Linked DNA regions of Homo sapiens: region 2 is linked to region 1. The links come from fine-mapping of genetic effects on gene expression. A gene starts in region 1. The other region holds a variant in brackets. All regions are shown on one strand. Distances are between the middles of the regions.

Region 1 (8,342 bases):
CTCTTCGGATGAAGACTCCAGAGTTCGGCCTCCCCAAACTGATATCAAAGAAGTGCTTTCCATGGGACTTGAGAAAACGTCTTACTGTTTAAGGAAAGAACGTCTTACTGTCTGAGACCCTGAATAGAAGGAGATGCCTTTAGTATTGGGTGTTATTTTTCAGAAGTTGGTCAAAGAAGGATACAAGATGGTTGATTAAGTGGGGATGGTGACAATTATTTTGCAACTCATAGAAGGACAGATGTTTATGTAACAGTTGATAGTTTTGGTGGAATAATCATGAGCATGTTTCTGAAATTAATATAAAATATACAGAGACCCCTAAAATCACTGCTTAAATTACATAGGTCTTGTGGTGTTTGGAAAGAGCAAACTTTGGAAGTATAATTGTAAAAATAATGTCATACAGTCAAGGAGAAGAGAAAACTTAAGGACAGCTTTCTCAAATCGCTGTTATTCTTGAATCATCTGAAAGCAGTACACGTGCCTGGCACCAATATACATCAGAGAGTAAATCATTGCACAAGGAGACTTGATCTTCTTTTTTTGTAGAATCTGGAGGAAAAATATCTATGAAAACCAAGAGGTAGTAGAGAATGGTGTTGTCGGAATTGCCTGACATCATTGGAGATAGAAAATTTGCCCTGGTAAAAGGTGCTCCTCAGGGAGGAGCATCTGCACATTCCATTAGCATAAAGCCCCTGGTGGGCCATATGAAGAAGTCTGGATTTGGCTATAAATGTGAAATTTATTTTAAATGGAGGATTTGAAGTAAGGGAGAAATATACCCTGACATATTTTTTAAAACCACCCTAGCAGCGTTTGTGCGCGGTACAAACTCTGGGAGGACAAGAAGAGATGTGGAAGGGAGAAGGCAGCTAAGAGTCTATCCCAGGATTGCAAAGATGTTGGAGCCCGACCTCAGATGGTAATGGTGGAAGTGTTAGAAATGGCTGGATTCCACATTTATTTTGAAGGGCCAGCCCATGGAATTTGCTTATGGATGGTCCATAAATAAGAGAAACAGAGGGCTCAATGATGATTCCTGGGCTTTTGACTTGAGCAACTAGAAGGATGGGGAAGTCTGAGGACAGAGATGCTGTGTGTGCCAGGATTGCGGTGCTTATGTGTGTTTGTGTAATTCTACTTGTGACATGTTGAATTGGTGATGCTAATCCACTCCAACTGAAAAATAAGGAGGGAAGTGGACATTCAACACATGATGACAGGAAGACAGGGAAGCTGGGACTTATGATGGTAACAATGTTGGCCATTAGCTGAGAAGTTTTGTATTTCAATGTTGGCCATTAGCTGAGAAGTTTTGTATTTTTTTTTTTTTTTTTGGACACAGAGTCTTGCTCTATTGCTCAGGCTTTAGTGCAGTGGCATGATGTCGATTCACTGCAACCTCCACCTCCTGTGTTCAAACCATTCTCATACCTCAGCCTCCTGAGCAGCTGGGATGACAGGTGCTTGCCACCATGCCCAACTGAGTTTTGTTTTTCTAATAGAGATGGGGTTTCACCATGTTGGCCAAGCTGGGTCGAACTCCTGGCCTCAGTTGCTTTGCCTGCCTCAGCGTCTCAAAGTACTGCGATTAGAGATGTAAGCCACCACGTCAGGCCTAAGAATTATAATTAAAGTACAGGGAAAATTAAAAGGGAGAAGAAAGTTCACAGAGAGATATCATGGCAAATGATAAATAAAAAAGCCTGCCTTGTTTCCCATACCCCCTGTGTCTTCGATTCCCTGAATTTTACCTCCCAGTGGACCGTGCTTGTTCCTTCGTAATGGCGCTCCAAGCAGCACTGCTGCACACCAATTCCTGAGCTTCCCTGCTTCTTGAGCTTAGGAATAGTTGTGCTTCTACTTCCTGTTTATTTGCTCATCACTGGCGTAGCAACTGAACCACACAATTGGGATAAGTAACCTGATGCCGTTTTGGGGAGCAATCTTCCATTTCTTCCTTACGTATAAAACTGACCCTCACAGAGAAACTAACTGTCTAGAGCGATAGGTCCAGAGTAGAGCTCTAGCTTTGCTTTTCCCTTTGCAGCTTTGCCCTGAGAGGTTTGATGCAATCCCACTGCAATGGGAATCCGTGAAAGAGTAGGGATGCTCAGGGAATCTGTTGGGCCACTAGGAAAAACTCATTTCTAGCTAATGCTTATACGGGGCTATGGAAGTTGTCTAACATCCCTGGGGACAGAGTGTTTGCCCTGAAAAGGAACATTCCCTTGGCACAAAGCATCTTGTTGGCTGGATTTTATAATAAACGTGACAAGAATGCTTTTGGCCAGTAACTGGTGGTTAGGTCATATTGTGGTTTGCAAACCCATAAAGAGGAAAAGGCCTCTCATGTGGTTGGGAGAGGTGGGAATGGATCATGCACTAAGGTCAGGTCTGGTGAAGTTAGGGAATAAGGCCAGTGTTTACGAAGAGTGATTCCTTCATGAACCCATAAAAGATGCTCTTGAACCCTAATAGTAGGATGATGTCTGTATTTAGAGTTGCAGACAACATGTTCTGGGAATACAGAGGAAGGCACCACTGCCTCTACCCTGAGAGTATATCACAGAGAAAGATTAATATTTGGACTAGATGGCTGAGAGATGAGTAGGAGTTTGATAGAAGAGAACAGGGGAAGTGTCTGGATGTACAATGGCAGAAGTGGCAGGAAAGGCTGAGGAGAACTGGCCTCTGGGGGTGGGTTATAGATATGGGCCTGGGCACCACATTCTGGAGCTTGCAATGGGTTATGTAAAAGCTTAGATGGGACGGTCTTTTCCTCTCCTCCTGTGGGTTCGTAGTGGGCCCACCTCACTCACTGCTGCAAACAAGCTGCCCCCATTTGAGAGAGAGCTGGAGTGGGGTCTCTAAGCCTCCAGCAACCACTTAGGAGCCATCCTTGATGCCCTGGCAGCTAACTCTTCACATGGAGACCCCGTAGTCCATCCTATCTTGGGAAGACAATGCACACAGGGGGAAGGTAACATCCCCCTCCAGATTCCAGAGGCTCCAAGGAGCCTCTCTCTCTCTTCAAGAAAAGAAATAGTCACTGAGCCACGGGTGGAGGTGAACATGGTTTGGGACCAACAGGCGGCTGGATGGTTTCACCTCCACGGTCATACAATGGTACTGGGAGATGAATGGGGGTAGGGCGATCTAGAATCATTTCAACCTCAACTTACAATGGGGTGGTGCTTGGTAGTTGACTCATTGTGGCCCCATTTAATATTTGCAGTCACCAGTTGGGGTAGGTGTGACTGTTGCTCCCATTTCACAGATTAGGACAGGATAGTTTGCTAGAGGTCACAGGACTAGTTGGGGAAAGGAAAGGGTGTCAGGTAGGATTTTAACCTTAGAGCCTCACGCTTTCTTAGGCTCTTTCAGGGAGACCTTGGGCAAATTCCTTTCTCTCTTGGTGGGGGGGTCTCCATTTCTTATTTGTAAATTAAGGAGTTCTTCCAGTTTGTGATTCTCTGTACTTTAACTTGGATAGGTTTTTTAAAATGGGGATTATGGGAACCCCACTATATTTAAGTAGAGTAGGTCTGGGGTGAGGCCCAGTAATCTGCAGCTTTGAACAAACCCCGGCATCAACAAAACTGGTTGAGATACTCAGGAAAGTTTATGGTGCATGAAAATCTTATTGCGAGCATCCAAAACACATAACACTGAGCTCCATCTGCAGAGATCCTGTTTTGATACCCTTGGTTGGACTGTGGCTGGGTAATTTGCATTTGTCAGAAGTGAGGCCAGTCAGCTGGTCAACCAGTCCTCCTGTCACTCTGTGACCCTCCCCCGGTGTCCGCGGTGCTTCTTTACTTGCATCTTGTGGGAATGACATCTGCGCAGGCAGCCCCTTTTAGCACCGCCCCTGGCACAGGAGCTGAGCTCTTAAAAACCAAGCCCAGCCCTGAGTTTGCAGATACTCAGGGAAGGGGAAGGTGCCTTTCCGCATTTGGTGTAGTCCCGCATTCTGCCATATGATGGCGCCAGAGAACGCGCCTACCGGGATAGGGAGGGGCAAGGAGGCGAGGAAGGAAAAAAAAGAGACAAGTGAAGATTGACATCCATTAAGGCCAATGGTAGCTCAATCTTCTGTTCTCTGACTCCCAAGCTTCCCATTCTCTTAGGAGGCTGCATTTGTGGCGCTAAAAAAAGGGATGGGCGTGGGAGATTCCAGGACTTGTGCTCGCTGAAGATACAACTGTTAGTCCAAGGTAACTCCCGCTCGTAGTGGCTCAACCCTCTTTGTCAATTCACCTTCCTCTAAGTTAACTATGGCTGCTCCACCTGTCTTTAGGGAAACCTACTCCCCATCGCGCTGGGTGTTTTGGAGTTTTTAAAAGCGTCGCGGGGTAAAGTCAGTGTTGTGCTTTTCCTTTTCTCAGCAGGTAAGTATTCCTGGAGCTGACAGCGGGGAGTTGCCGGGCGGGAGTAGGGGTGAAGAGAGAATAGGGAGAGAGATAACAGGTGTGAAGCGTCCCTCAATGCCAGGCATCCTGCTTTGGCACCTTCCAGAAATTTGTCTCAATCATCTTTCTATTGAATTCATTTTCTGTTTCACAGATTAGGAAACCTCAACTAAGTGGCCCAAGGAGAGTCCTTGGATAATTTTAACTTGTGTCAGAAACCAAAGCCCAAGGTCTTTTATTTTGCAGAGGCTGCTTTGGCAGGATTTCAATGCATGCAGGTCCTGCGAATCACTGCTCCTCACTCAATGATCCATCCCGCTGTCCACACATTCATTCACCCATTCATTTCTTAGGGGCTTATCTGCAAGGCGTGGGGCTGGATGATACTAAAAATACAAAAGGGACTCTGATGTAAAGTAGAAGAGACTTTTTAAAAAGATTTACACAGAATTCCGGTGCTCAGCATGGTTTCGATTTTTTTCCCCAACATACTATTGATACCTATTATGTTCCACATAATATGATGGATTCTGAAGATACAGAGATGGGTGAGACCTATCCTTGCCTTTCAGAAGCTCGTTGTCATAGGCAAGAGTAATCTCTGAGGTTTAATTTTAGATATCTATTTTTTAACAAATTGAGCATCAACTCTATATATTCTACTGTAATTAATGTACTAAATAATTAAATATTACACACACTTAATTTCTTATTTTTTAGATGAAGATGAATCTAAGTGGTGGTTCAAGTATGTCCTTTGTCCATCCTAGTGGACCATTTTGGGTGCTTCAGACTGCAACTCTACCCTCCTGTTATGTGCTTGGCTCTATTCCTTCTTTCTGCAGCTCTCTGTCAAATGACAGGCTTTGAGGGAAACCAGTCCTGACCCCTTCCTGTTTTCTCTCCTTTTTACCTGCTCCTATCTGAGGCCTCTTTTCCTATTTATTTGTTGTTCTTTCTCCCTCCATCATCTTCTGTCGTCAAATCATGTGTTGTTTTCATATACTACATCTGAGTTTATAGGGAATATGTTCACAGTTGTTTTAATTTTTGGTTTAGCTTCTGCCTCCCTGCTCCAGAATGTAAGCTTCAAGAAGGGCGGCGAGGAGTTCTTGACACCTGTCACTGCCTGAGAAACGGTTGGGGATGGAGGGAGACAGTTTTGCCCAGTGCATCCTGAAATCCCCTGAGGTGGGGGTGGGAGTGGAGGGAAGATCAGGGAATGTCCATTCATTTTATGAAGTTGAAGTTGGGTTAAATCCTATTATATCCTGTGATGTTGTTTGTTAATCTCAACCTGAAGACCTCATCGCTAGTCATCCACTTTTTGCTAGCTTTGTGACCTTGAATGAAAGTTCAAGGCTACCTTGTTTCTTTGTACCTCAGTTTCCTTATGTATAAAGTGGAAAATTATATTTGGTCATCCTAAAATGTGATGTCATAGGGAATCAGTCACTTGAGGGTAAAAGACAAACATTTGTCAATGTATAAGGCTGCAGAAATTATATTCTTGTGAGGGTCAAAGAAAGATATTTGTGGATTTGAGAGTCTTCAGATATTATATCGGTAGCATATGTACATGCAGGAAATACTGAAGAAGCAATTTAATCAAATAGGAAAAGAGATTTCAGATAGGAGCAGAAAATAAGGAGAGGAAACAGTGGTGAGTAAAAAAAAATTGACAAATTTTATGTAGAGAGTTAACTCTAAATGGACAATGATAGGCTCTCTGGGAATGTGTAAGAAAAGTTTTAAAGAAGGATTCTTTAAATTGATGAGACACACTGCAAGGGAAATTCTGTGACACCTGGAACTAAAACACGTGGAACTAAAACATCGGGCTCAGGGGGTTGAACGGTAGAGGAATAAAAGCATTTTGTATCACTTAGCACACTCATCTGGATCTGAGGAGGGAGCAAAACAGGGAAATAAATCTATTGGAAGATGTCAACTTATTGAGGTAAAGGAGGAAACGGTGAATAGCTGTTACTTTATTTTATATAATAGTAAACAAATTTGTGTTCAATTATGAGCACTAGAAACAAATACCAGTGATTGAATAAAAAGTTAATAAGGGAATATGATGTATAAGTGAGTTAATAAGAGAACTTGATGGATAAGTGAATTAATAAGAGTCCACAGTGGAGGCAATTTCCCCTTTTGAAAAACATTATCTTTTGAATATACGCAGGATATACTTTTCAAAAGAAAAAAAGGTGTATATTGGGGAAACAATTTTCACTCATTCTCGAGACACTCAATACTTTTCCCTAGATAATCTATGGCTATACAAGCATAATAATGCCTTTTCAATATATTTTCCCAGCAACTAAGAAGTTCAGTGTTTATAATTGTAATAAGAAGCGTGCTGATCTGGCCTGAAATATAGTTTTACTTTAGATATATGTCTCATAAATAGAATTTAAGAAGTCAGGGAATATGCTTAGAAAGGGATTACCAAGGCCCTATAACACATGAGTTTGGGGGCACAGGGTGATTAAGATTTAGAATAAAGTTAGGTGAAATCTAGGGCCAAAGGATAGCAGGAGGGTGTGTGTGTGTGTATGTGTGTGTGTATGTTGGGTGGGGCAGGTGGGAACCTTTGGAGAATGCCTGTAGGCTGCTAGTGAGGTGCTATGATCTCTAGACCTTGGTAGGTCCTTGCAAAGAGACAGGGTTCTGAAAGGCTGGCACCATTATAGGTTTTTAAAATATTTTTGTTATCCATAGGGGTGACCCTGGAGATCATTACCAAAATTTAAAAATTTCACCACTGGGCACACATGTTACCCTTCTCGTGATGGCATGGCAAAGCTTGATTTGCAAGAGTTTCTTTTGGATTGTCCCCAATGATTCCCTTTAAAAATAGGAGCTCCTTCAAGGTAAGAAAGGAAGGAGAAAATATCCCTTCTAACCTATTTTCTCTTTTGCATTCCAAGGACTCTGGAAAGGCACAGCAGGTTTGTTTTTGAAATCTGTAGAATTTTAGTGCTCTCCATTCTCCCAAGTAGATGACTTTAGTGAAGGTAAAAGGAAAGACTGTTTGCTGTGTCAAGGGAAGATTCATATGCAAATCCCAAGACTCAGATGTTATTTCAGAAGCTTTGGTGTCCATAGTAAAGTAGAACTAGCCCGGGTTCATCTGCCTACAAGGGCAATTGTATGAGGCAAATATGAGGAAACTGGCAGAACAGGAGGGGTGGAATCTTCCTGGGAGAAACAGTAAAGAGAGTTCTAGGTGGAGAGGGGATCAATGTGTTGAGCAAACACATGGCTGTCTTCTTAGTTCCTATATGAAATCATGGAAAAGACTTTTGAACAAAGAATAAATATGTCATAGCAGGAAAACAAAAAGCAGTCTTTTGGCCAGAAATAGAAACTGTTAAAAAGAAAAGCAAACCAACAACAATAAAAAACACCTTTAAGTTTGAAAATGACAGAAGTTAAGAAGTGGAAAGTTGCCTGGGATATGCTTTTATTGCGGCCTCTCTAATAAACCCGTCCCCACTCCATCTTCATGTCCTTGCTTATCCTAAGCAGCATGGTGGCAGCTGTGGCATTCTTCAGACTAAAGTGGTCATTTTTGGCACTTGGGCTTGAGATGGCAGTGAAGCGGCATCGTTTGTCTGGGGAAATGCCAGAGGTTTGCTGTCTCACAGTATGGAAATTGAGATGTGGACACCAAAGGAGTGGGTTCAAGAGCAAAAGTTTAATAGGCAAAAGAATGAAGAGAGAGTTTCCTCATGCATTGGAAAGGTGCCTGAGCAGGTTTCCGGGTTTGGGGCGAGTTGTGGTTGGTTTTATAGAGGAGCTTGAGGAGGCAGTGTCTGATTTACATAGGGCTCAGAGGGTTGGTTGGAGCAGGTGTGCCATTTATGTGATGCATGAAGAGCCTGGCCATCCCACATGAATCTTTAGTAT
Region 2 (8,342 bases), 46 kb after region 1:
TCATGTAGTTCTCAAGCCTTGGCTTTTAGCTCCATCAGCTCCTTTAAGCACTTCTCTGTATTGGTTATTCTAGTTATACATTCGTCTAAATTTTTTTCAAAGTTTTTAACTTCTTTGCCTTTGGTTTGAATTTCCTCCTGTATCTCGGAGTAGTTTGATCATCTGAAGCCTTCTTCTCTCAACTTGTCAAAGTCATTCTCCATCCAGCTTTGTTCTGTTGCTGTGAGGAACTGTGTTCCTTTGGAGGAGGAGAGGTGCTCCGCTTTTTCGAGTTTCCAGTTTTTCTGCTCTTTTTTCCTCATCTTTGTGGTTTTATCTACTTTTGGTCTTTGATGATGGTGATGTACAGATGGGTTTTTGGTGTGGATGTCCTTTCTGTTTGTTAGTTTTCCTTCTAACAGACAGGACCCTCAGCTGCAGGTCTGTTGGAGTTTGCTAGAGGTCCACTCCAGACCCTGTTTGCCTGGGTATCAGCAGCGGTGGCTGCAGAACAGTGGATTTTCGTGAACCGTGAATGCTGCTGTCTGATCGTTCCTCTGGAAGTTTTGTCTCAGAGGAGTACCCAGCCGTGTGAGATGTCAGTCTGCCCCTACTGGGGGGTGCCTTCCAGTTAGGCTGCTCGGGGGTCAGGGGTCAGGGACCCACTTGAGGAGGCAGTCTGCCTATTCTCAGATCTCCAGCTGCATGCTGGGAGAACCACTGCTCTCTTCAAATCTGTCAGACAGGGACATTTAAGTCTGCAGAGGTTACTGCTGTCTTTTTGTTTGTCTGTGCCCTGCCCCCAGAGGTGGAGCCTACAGAGGCAGGCAAGCCTCCTTGAGCTGTGGTGGGCTCCACCCAGTTCGAGATTCACAGCTGCTTTGTTTACCTAAGCGAGCCTGGGCAATGGTGGGTGCCCCTCCCCCAGCCTTGCTGCCGCCTTGCAGTTTGATCTCAGACTGCTGTGCTAGCAATCAGTGAGTCTCCATGGGTGTAGGACCCTCTGAGCCACGTGCGGGATATAATCTCCTGGTGCACCGTTTTTTAAGCCTGTTGGAAAAGTGCCGTATTAGGGTGGGAGTCACCCAATTTTCCAGGTGCCATCTGTCACCCCTTTCTTTGACTGGGAAAGGGAACTCCCTGACCCCTTGCTCTTCCTGAGTGAGGCAATGCCTCGCCCTGCTTCGGCTCGTGCATGGTGCGCTGCATCCACTGTCCTGCACCCACTGTCTGGCACTCCCCAGTGAGATGAACACTGTACCTCAGATGGAAATGCAGAAATCACCTGTCTTCTGCATCGCTCACACTGGAAGCTGTAGACCAGAGCTGTTCCTATTTGGCCATCTTGGCTGCCAGACCTGTGAAATCAATTTTTCTTACAAAAGTATAGTGACTCCTACTCTTCTTAGTTTCTATTGTCACAAAATAACTTTCTCCTTCCCTTTATTTTCAGTCTATGTGGATCTGTATAGGTGAAGTGTGTTTCTTATAGGCAATAGAGCAATGGGTCTTGTTTTTAAATCCATTCAGCCACTCTATGTCTTTTGATTGGAGAGTTTAGTCCATTTACCTTCAATGTTATTATTAATAAGTAAGGACTTAGTCCTGCCATTTTGGTATTTGTTTGCTGGTTGTGAACTCCTCTACCTTGTTTTTCTCCTTCCGGCCTTCCTTTAGCGAAAGTGATTTTCTCTGGTGATAAAATTTTGTTTCTTTCTTTTAATTTTTTGTGTGTCCATTGTATGTTTTTGGGTTTGAGGTTACCATGACGTTTGCAAATACCATCTTATAACCCATTATTTAAATCTGATAACAAAACTATTTGCATAAACAAACAAGCACAAAGTATACTGATAAAAACCCAATGCTTTAATTTTGTCTTCCCACTTTTTAACTTTTTGTTATTTCTATTTATATCTTACTGTACTGTTTCTTGAAAAGTTGTTGTAGTTATTATTTTTGATTGGTTCATCATTTGGTGTTACTACTTAGGGTAAAAGTAGTTTATACACCAGAGCTACAGTGTTATAATATTCTGTCTTTTTCTGCGTACTGATTATTATCAGTGTGTTTTTAAACATCTGATGATTATTTATTGCTCACTAATGTTCTTTTCTTACTGAATGTTCTGTTCTTTCTAATGTTCTTCTCTTTATATACAATTTCTTGTGAGACAGGTCTAATATTAATGAAATCCCTCAGCTCTTGTCAGGGAAAGTATTCTTCCTTCATGTTTGAAGAATATTTTTGCCAGATATAATATTCTACTGTAAAAGGTTTTTCTCCTTCAGTACTTTAAATATGTCATGCCACTGTCTGCGAGGTTTTCACTGAAAGAATCTGCTGTCAGATGTATTGGATCTTCATTGTATGTTATTTATTTCTTTTCTCTTGCTGCTTTTACATTTCTTTCTCCTTGACCTTTGGTAGTTTGATTTTAAATGCCTTGAGATACTCTTTGGGTTAAATCTGCTTGGTGTTCTACAACTTTCCTGTACTCAGATACTGACATCATTCTCTGGTATGGGGAAGTTCTCTCTTACTATTCCTTTAAATAAATTTTCTACCCCTGTCTCTTTCCCTACCTTCTCTTTAAGGCCAACAATTCTTAGATTTGCCCTTTCAAGGCTATTTTCTATATTCGGTAGATGCGCTTTGTTGTTTTTATTATTTTTCTTTTGTATCTTTTGACAGTGTCTTTTTAAATAGCCTGTCTTCAGGCTGACTAATTCTTTTTTCTGCTTGGTCAATTCTGCTATTAAAGGACTCTGATGCATTCTTCATTATGACAATTGCATTTTTCAGCTGCAGAATTTCTGATTCTTTTTAACTATTTCAATCTCTTTGTTAAATTTATCTGATATAATTCTGAATTCCTTCTCTGTGTTATCTCTGTGTTATCAAAGTTTCTTTAAGTTTCCTCATTGCAGCTATTTTGAACTCTCTTTCTGAAAGGTCACATATCCCCATTTCTTCAGGATTGGTCCCTGGTGACTTATTTAGTTCATTCGCTGAGGTCATGTTTTTCTCAATGGTGTTGATGCTAGTAGATGTTCTTCGGTGTCTGAGCACTGAAGAGTTAGGTGTTTGTTGTAGTCTTCACTGTCTGGGCTTATTTGTAGCCATCCTTTTTGGGAACGCTCTGCAGATATTTGAAAGGACATAGGTATCGTGATTTAAACTCTCTACTTTAGGGAGCATCCCAAGCCCAGTAATACTGTGGTTTTTGAAGACTCATAAAAGTACTGCCTCAATGGCCTTGGACATGATTCAGGAGAATTCTCTGGATTGCCAGGCAGAGACTGCTCTGTTTTCTTCCCTTAATTTCTTGAAAAAAAAAAAAAAATTTCTCTCTCTTGTCTGTGCCACCTAAAACTGGGGGTGGAGTGACATAAGCACTTCTGTGGCCACCACCATTATGACTGCACTACATCAGGCCTGAGGCCCACAGAGCACTGCATCTTGCCCAATGCCTGCTGTAATCACTTCTTGGCTACTGCCTATGTTTGCTCAAGGCCCTGGAGATCTGCAATCAGCAGGCAGCAAAGCCGGCCAGGCCTGTGTCCTTCCCATCAGGGCAGTGAGATCCCCCAGGCCCTGGGTGGATACAGAGGTGCTGTCCAGAAGTCAGGGACTAGAGTCAAAAACATTAGACGAGTACCTGGTGTTCTATTATATTGCAGTCGAGCTGACGTTCAAACCACAAGATGAAGTCCTTCCCACTTTTCTCTTCTCTTTCCAAAGGCAGAGGAGCCACACCCCATAGTGACCCCTACCCACTGGTTGCTAGACTACCAACCAGTGTTCTCTTAAAGCCAAAGGGCTCTTAAATCAGCTTGTAGTAAAGGCTGCCTTGCCTGGGACTCACCCTTCAGGGCAGTGGGCTCCCTTGTGGCCCATGGTAGGTCCAGAAATGCTGTTCAAGAGCTAAGTCCTGCAATTGGGTATGCCAAGAGCCCACTTGCTGCTCTACCATGCTGTGGCTGTGCTGGCACCTAAGGTGCAAAACAAAGTCTCTTTACTCTCCTTCCATTTTTCTGAAGAAGAAAGAATCTTGCCTCATAGCTGCCTCAGCTGAAATGTGCTGAGTCTCACCTGAAACCTGCTAGTCTCAGATGCTCATCCAAAGCCCTCAGTGTATTAATAGTACCTGGGTATTGCTTAGGTTATTCAGGGCTCAAGGTATCTTCAATTAACAGGTGGTGAATGCTCTGAGGAATGAATTCTTTCCTTCAATGCAGAGGTTTCCCTTCTGGCCCAGCCTATGTCTAGAAATGTTGTCTAGGAGCAGTGGCCTGGAACGGGGGCCTCACAACTCTGTTTGGTGCCTTATCCTCTTGTGGCTCAGCTGATATGCAAAGACAAAGTCTTCCTTACTGTTTCTTTCCATTCCTCCAGCAGAAGGAAGGAGTCTCTTTGGGAGCTGCGAGATATGCAACCTGGAGTTGGGGGAGGGGTGATAACAGCACTCCTTTGGCTGACCCAGCTGGTGTCTCAGTATGTCAAATATCCCCCTAGTCCACAATTTCTGGGACTTATTCAGCACTGGACTCACCTAAGAGTTGCAGTCCTTATGGCTTAGACTGCCTTTCAAGTTTACTTGGAAACACAGAGAACTGTAGGCCCCCTGTGGTGAGGTTTTCAGGCACTGAAGTTCTTACTGCTGGGATTGCTGATTCCTCTCAGGTTAGGACTGGCTTAAATGCTCCCTCTGCCTCCAGGGGCAGGTGTCAGCTGAG[T/A]TTGATCTAGTTTTCCTTTGTGTCTAACATAACAACAATGAGTTCAGTGCCTCATAATTGCTGTGTTCTTCCTTCCCCCCCGTGCCCAGAGATAGACTGTGCACCACATGACTGCTACTGAGGTTGGGAGGGAGGGGGGTTGGTGATTCAGGACTGTTTTTTTCCATCTCTTCAGTGCCTCTTTTAGGGATATGAAGTCCAAACCGGGTACTATGAGTGCTCACTTGATTTTTGGTTCTCATGAAGGTATTTTTTCTGTGTAGTTGTTAACTTGGGGCCTTGTGGGGTATGGGGAAATGATTAGTGGAGCCTTCTATTCTGCCATTTGCTTTGCTTCTCCTCCCCATTATAAACTATTTAAAAAATATTTAATAGCTTAAGAAATTACTTAAGTAATACTCAGTATAGAAATAAAATATGTGGTCTCTCAGCTATCCACAGTGTGCTGTCAATTATGGAATAAAAAATACGTATTGAGTAGTTTAAATGGACCATTTTTTTAAAAGGATGATTAGTTTACTGTAAACTCTATAAACTTTCATATAGATTTAACAAATTAATCATTTACAATTATAAATATGTAAAAATTCTTTGATTATGTGAACAACTTTTGGTTCAAAAAGTAGAGTAACTAAAAGTATAAAATTCAATGCCTTACACAGCAAGCATGTGCAGATAGTAGAAAATCCTAATTGATAATTTTTAATATGTCGTCTGGAGTAGATGATTTAGGTTTGTAAGAAGTTATAAACTGCCTAAGGGTAGGGAATCACTGTCTATGGAATCATGGTGTCATTAAAAGAATTCGATATTCGGCCTCATATTCCAGACATTGCCAATGGTTAGTTTTGTGACTTGAGGGAAGACATTTACTTTTTTGTCAGCAACAGCTTCCTTATTTGTGTAAAAATAACTCTTGTTTTTCTCATGTCATAAATGATTACAATTTGAAGTTGCTTTCACTTCCAGAAAGTGGGTAAAGACTTTTTTTTCTTTTTAATTAGAGAGAGTATCTCACCCTGTTGCCCAGGCTGAAGTGCAGTGGTGAAATACCTCACTGCGATCTCAAATTTCTGGGCTCAAGCAATCTTTTCATCTCAGTCTCCTGAGTAGTTGGTACTATAGACACATGCCCCTATATGTGGCTAATTAAAAACCAAAAATTTAAAGATGAGTTTTATTAGGTTGCCCAGGCTCATATCAAATTTCTGCCCTCAAGCAATCCTTCTGCCTCAGACTCCCAAGTAGCTGGTATTACCGGTGTAAGCCACTGCACCCAGGATAAAAATTTTATAACATATTTTCCCATTTTTTAATCTCAATGTTTTCAAAATATAATATAGATCAGACTCTTTTAGATAGCTTTTTATAAGATACAGATTGCCAGGCACTTTGGGAGCCTCTGATTTACCTGATCTGGAAAAGTTCTTGTATTGTTAACAAGCAAGCCCAATTGATCTTGAAGTAGATGGTGTGAGGAACACACATTGAAAACAATGTTTGTCTCTATTCCTCTACAAAGCTAATTCCAGTCCCCCTGAAACTTTTCTCCACTAATTGCTTTTTCTTCTTATACTTACAATACCCTTCCCTCTTGCTCCACTTTAGACAACCAGAGGACAAGGTATATGAAACCCAGTTCTCATTATTACAGTAACTTTCTTGAGGCATTCTTGTCTTTTTCCAACCCACAAATGGTTGAAAGTATTAGGCCAGGTATTTTGCCTTGAAACCAAACTTTCCAACTCTTTGTTTGCTCTGCTAACTTGTTTTAAATAAGGCTGCAGCTGTGCTATTTTTGCCAACTCTAGAAAATTGACTTAATATTGTTCTAGAATACTCTTTCAGCTATAACAAGTTATGTATAAATCAAAAGCTTCTTGTGTAAAACTTCTTATAATTGTAGAGGCTGCTCAATACAGAACATGGTCTCAGTCCTCCTCTGGTCCACAAAGCCTCTGACTTCCTGTCTACGGACAGAACATCTGGTTTAATCTACAGGAACCCATAACTTCCTGAAGCTTTATGCTAAACAGTGACAGCGTGAGTCAATTGAATTTTAGTGTGTCTGAGTCCATAGAGTGTTAGCTACAGAAACCTTTCCATTGCCATTCTGAGCAAGTGCAGCAGGCAGTGTGCCTACAGCTCTGCAAAGAAACTTCAGGTAAGCAGAATTGTTTAGAACAGCCTTTTTTTCTTGGCATTTCAATTAATTAGGATTCTTGTTCTCAATCATTTGTATTTGTTAATTTATTTCTTTTCCCCTGAAAACCCTTGGAATGAGCACTCACCAGGGTCTCAATGTTGAGAACAAATTCTTCAAAACCTTTTAGGTACCTGAAGCTGGAAAATACTTTAGAAAAAGCCAGTGTGTAGCCTTTTGAATTTGTAAAATGTCCAAATGCTTTCCTTGAATTATAAATTATCAATATGCTTAAACATTTCTCTAACAACCTCTAGATCTCCAGGGTAATATAGTTACCAAAAAGAAAAAAAATCAGTATTCTCCTTGCCTCCAATCCTGCTTCTAGAGTATTACTTATTTGCATAGAAAAATCTTCCTTCTTCCTTCTGTGTCATGTGGCTGGAATAAAACAATGCTTTTCTGTTGCCCTCTGCCAAATTTCTCTGCATTCGTTGAAATATTTGGCACCTGACATCCTAATTTTTCTCTTCAGCCAACTTCTGCTACATCCTGTTCATGTCTGTGATACCTGAAGCTCCCATTCCCTTCTTGGCTCCTACTCTATTGACTTGGAGTTGATGCCAACAGTCATACATGCCAAACTGATCTACTTCTGAATACCTCTGAAATCTCAACCTCTAATAGCCTAATATCTGACTCCAGTCTCCTATTTGTAAGTACATTTTCCCCTGTCTATTAACATTGCTATTCTTTGACTTCATCAAGTACTTTCGTCCCTTGCTTTTTCTATATTTTCTCACTTTATTGGTCTCCAACCTACTTTACTTTTTTCTTCTCTATCTTAGATGTGAGTTTCAATCCCTCATTACTATGTTCTCAAATGCTTTGTCCCTTATCTTTTTTGTTATCCAGCCCTGAAAAAGCCAATCTTGGTTTGTTTTAATTTGTCTTCTGTGCTTCTACTTTTAGGGTGCTGAGCTTAATATACTGTTGAGTAACACTTCCAGTGATGGTGTCCCTCTTTACATGATCCTAAGCATGCTTGCCAGTCCTTGCTAATTCTAGTCCACTGTTTCTCCCATTAACATCAAAAGCCATTTATACCCTAACCATTTCCCCTAACATCCTACTTCTTTTTCTGAACACTTTCTTGGCATACTCCCTCACCCACTCACTTCTAAAAAGTGATTTTGGGAATAGGAAGAAATTTTACCTCTTCCAGGAAATAGACATTCAAAAATAACTTGCCAACTCTATGCTCCTTTTTTCTAACCCTGTGTACTCCTGTATACAATTAGTCCTTACTTAACATTGTCAATAGGTTCTTGGAAACTGCAACATCAAATGAAACAACACATATCAAAATTATTTTTACCATAAGCTAATTAATATAAAGAAGAGTTAAGTTCCTACAGCATATTTCTGGTGACAAAAACATCACCAAACTTATAAAGAACTGAAGCACTTCTAATATAAAA

The links. PIP is the estimated chance that this variant, and not a neighbour inherited with it, causes the effect.
Region 2: its variant is fine-mapped to the expression of GLYATL1-AS1 in whole blood (INTERVAL, PIP above 0.99).

Annotation. Positions count from the first base shown.
Region 1 is chr11:59,054,256-59,062,597 of GRCh38, reverse strand. GLYATL1-AS1 (GLYATL1 antisense RNA 1) reads left to right here and starts at 4,146. Exons shown (of 6, transcript NR_033853.2): 1 at 4,146-4,226. RefSeq lists enhancers at 3,812-4,071, 4,242-4,311.
Region 2 is chr11:59,008,233-59,016,574 of GRCh38, reverse strand. The region is part of intron 3 of GLYATL1-AS1 (GLYATL1 antisense RNA 1); the gene reads left to right. Among named protein-coding and RNA genes, the nearest start is that of GLYATL1-AS1, 46 kb to the left of the region's middle. The variant T/A (reference allele first, on the strand shown) is at 4,719.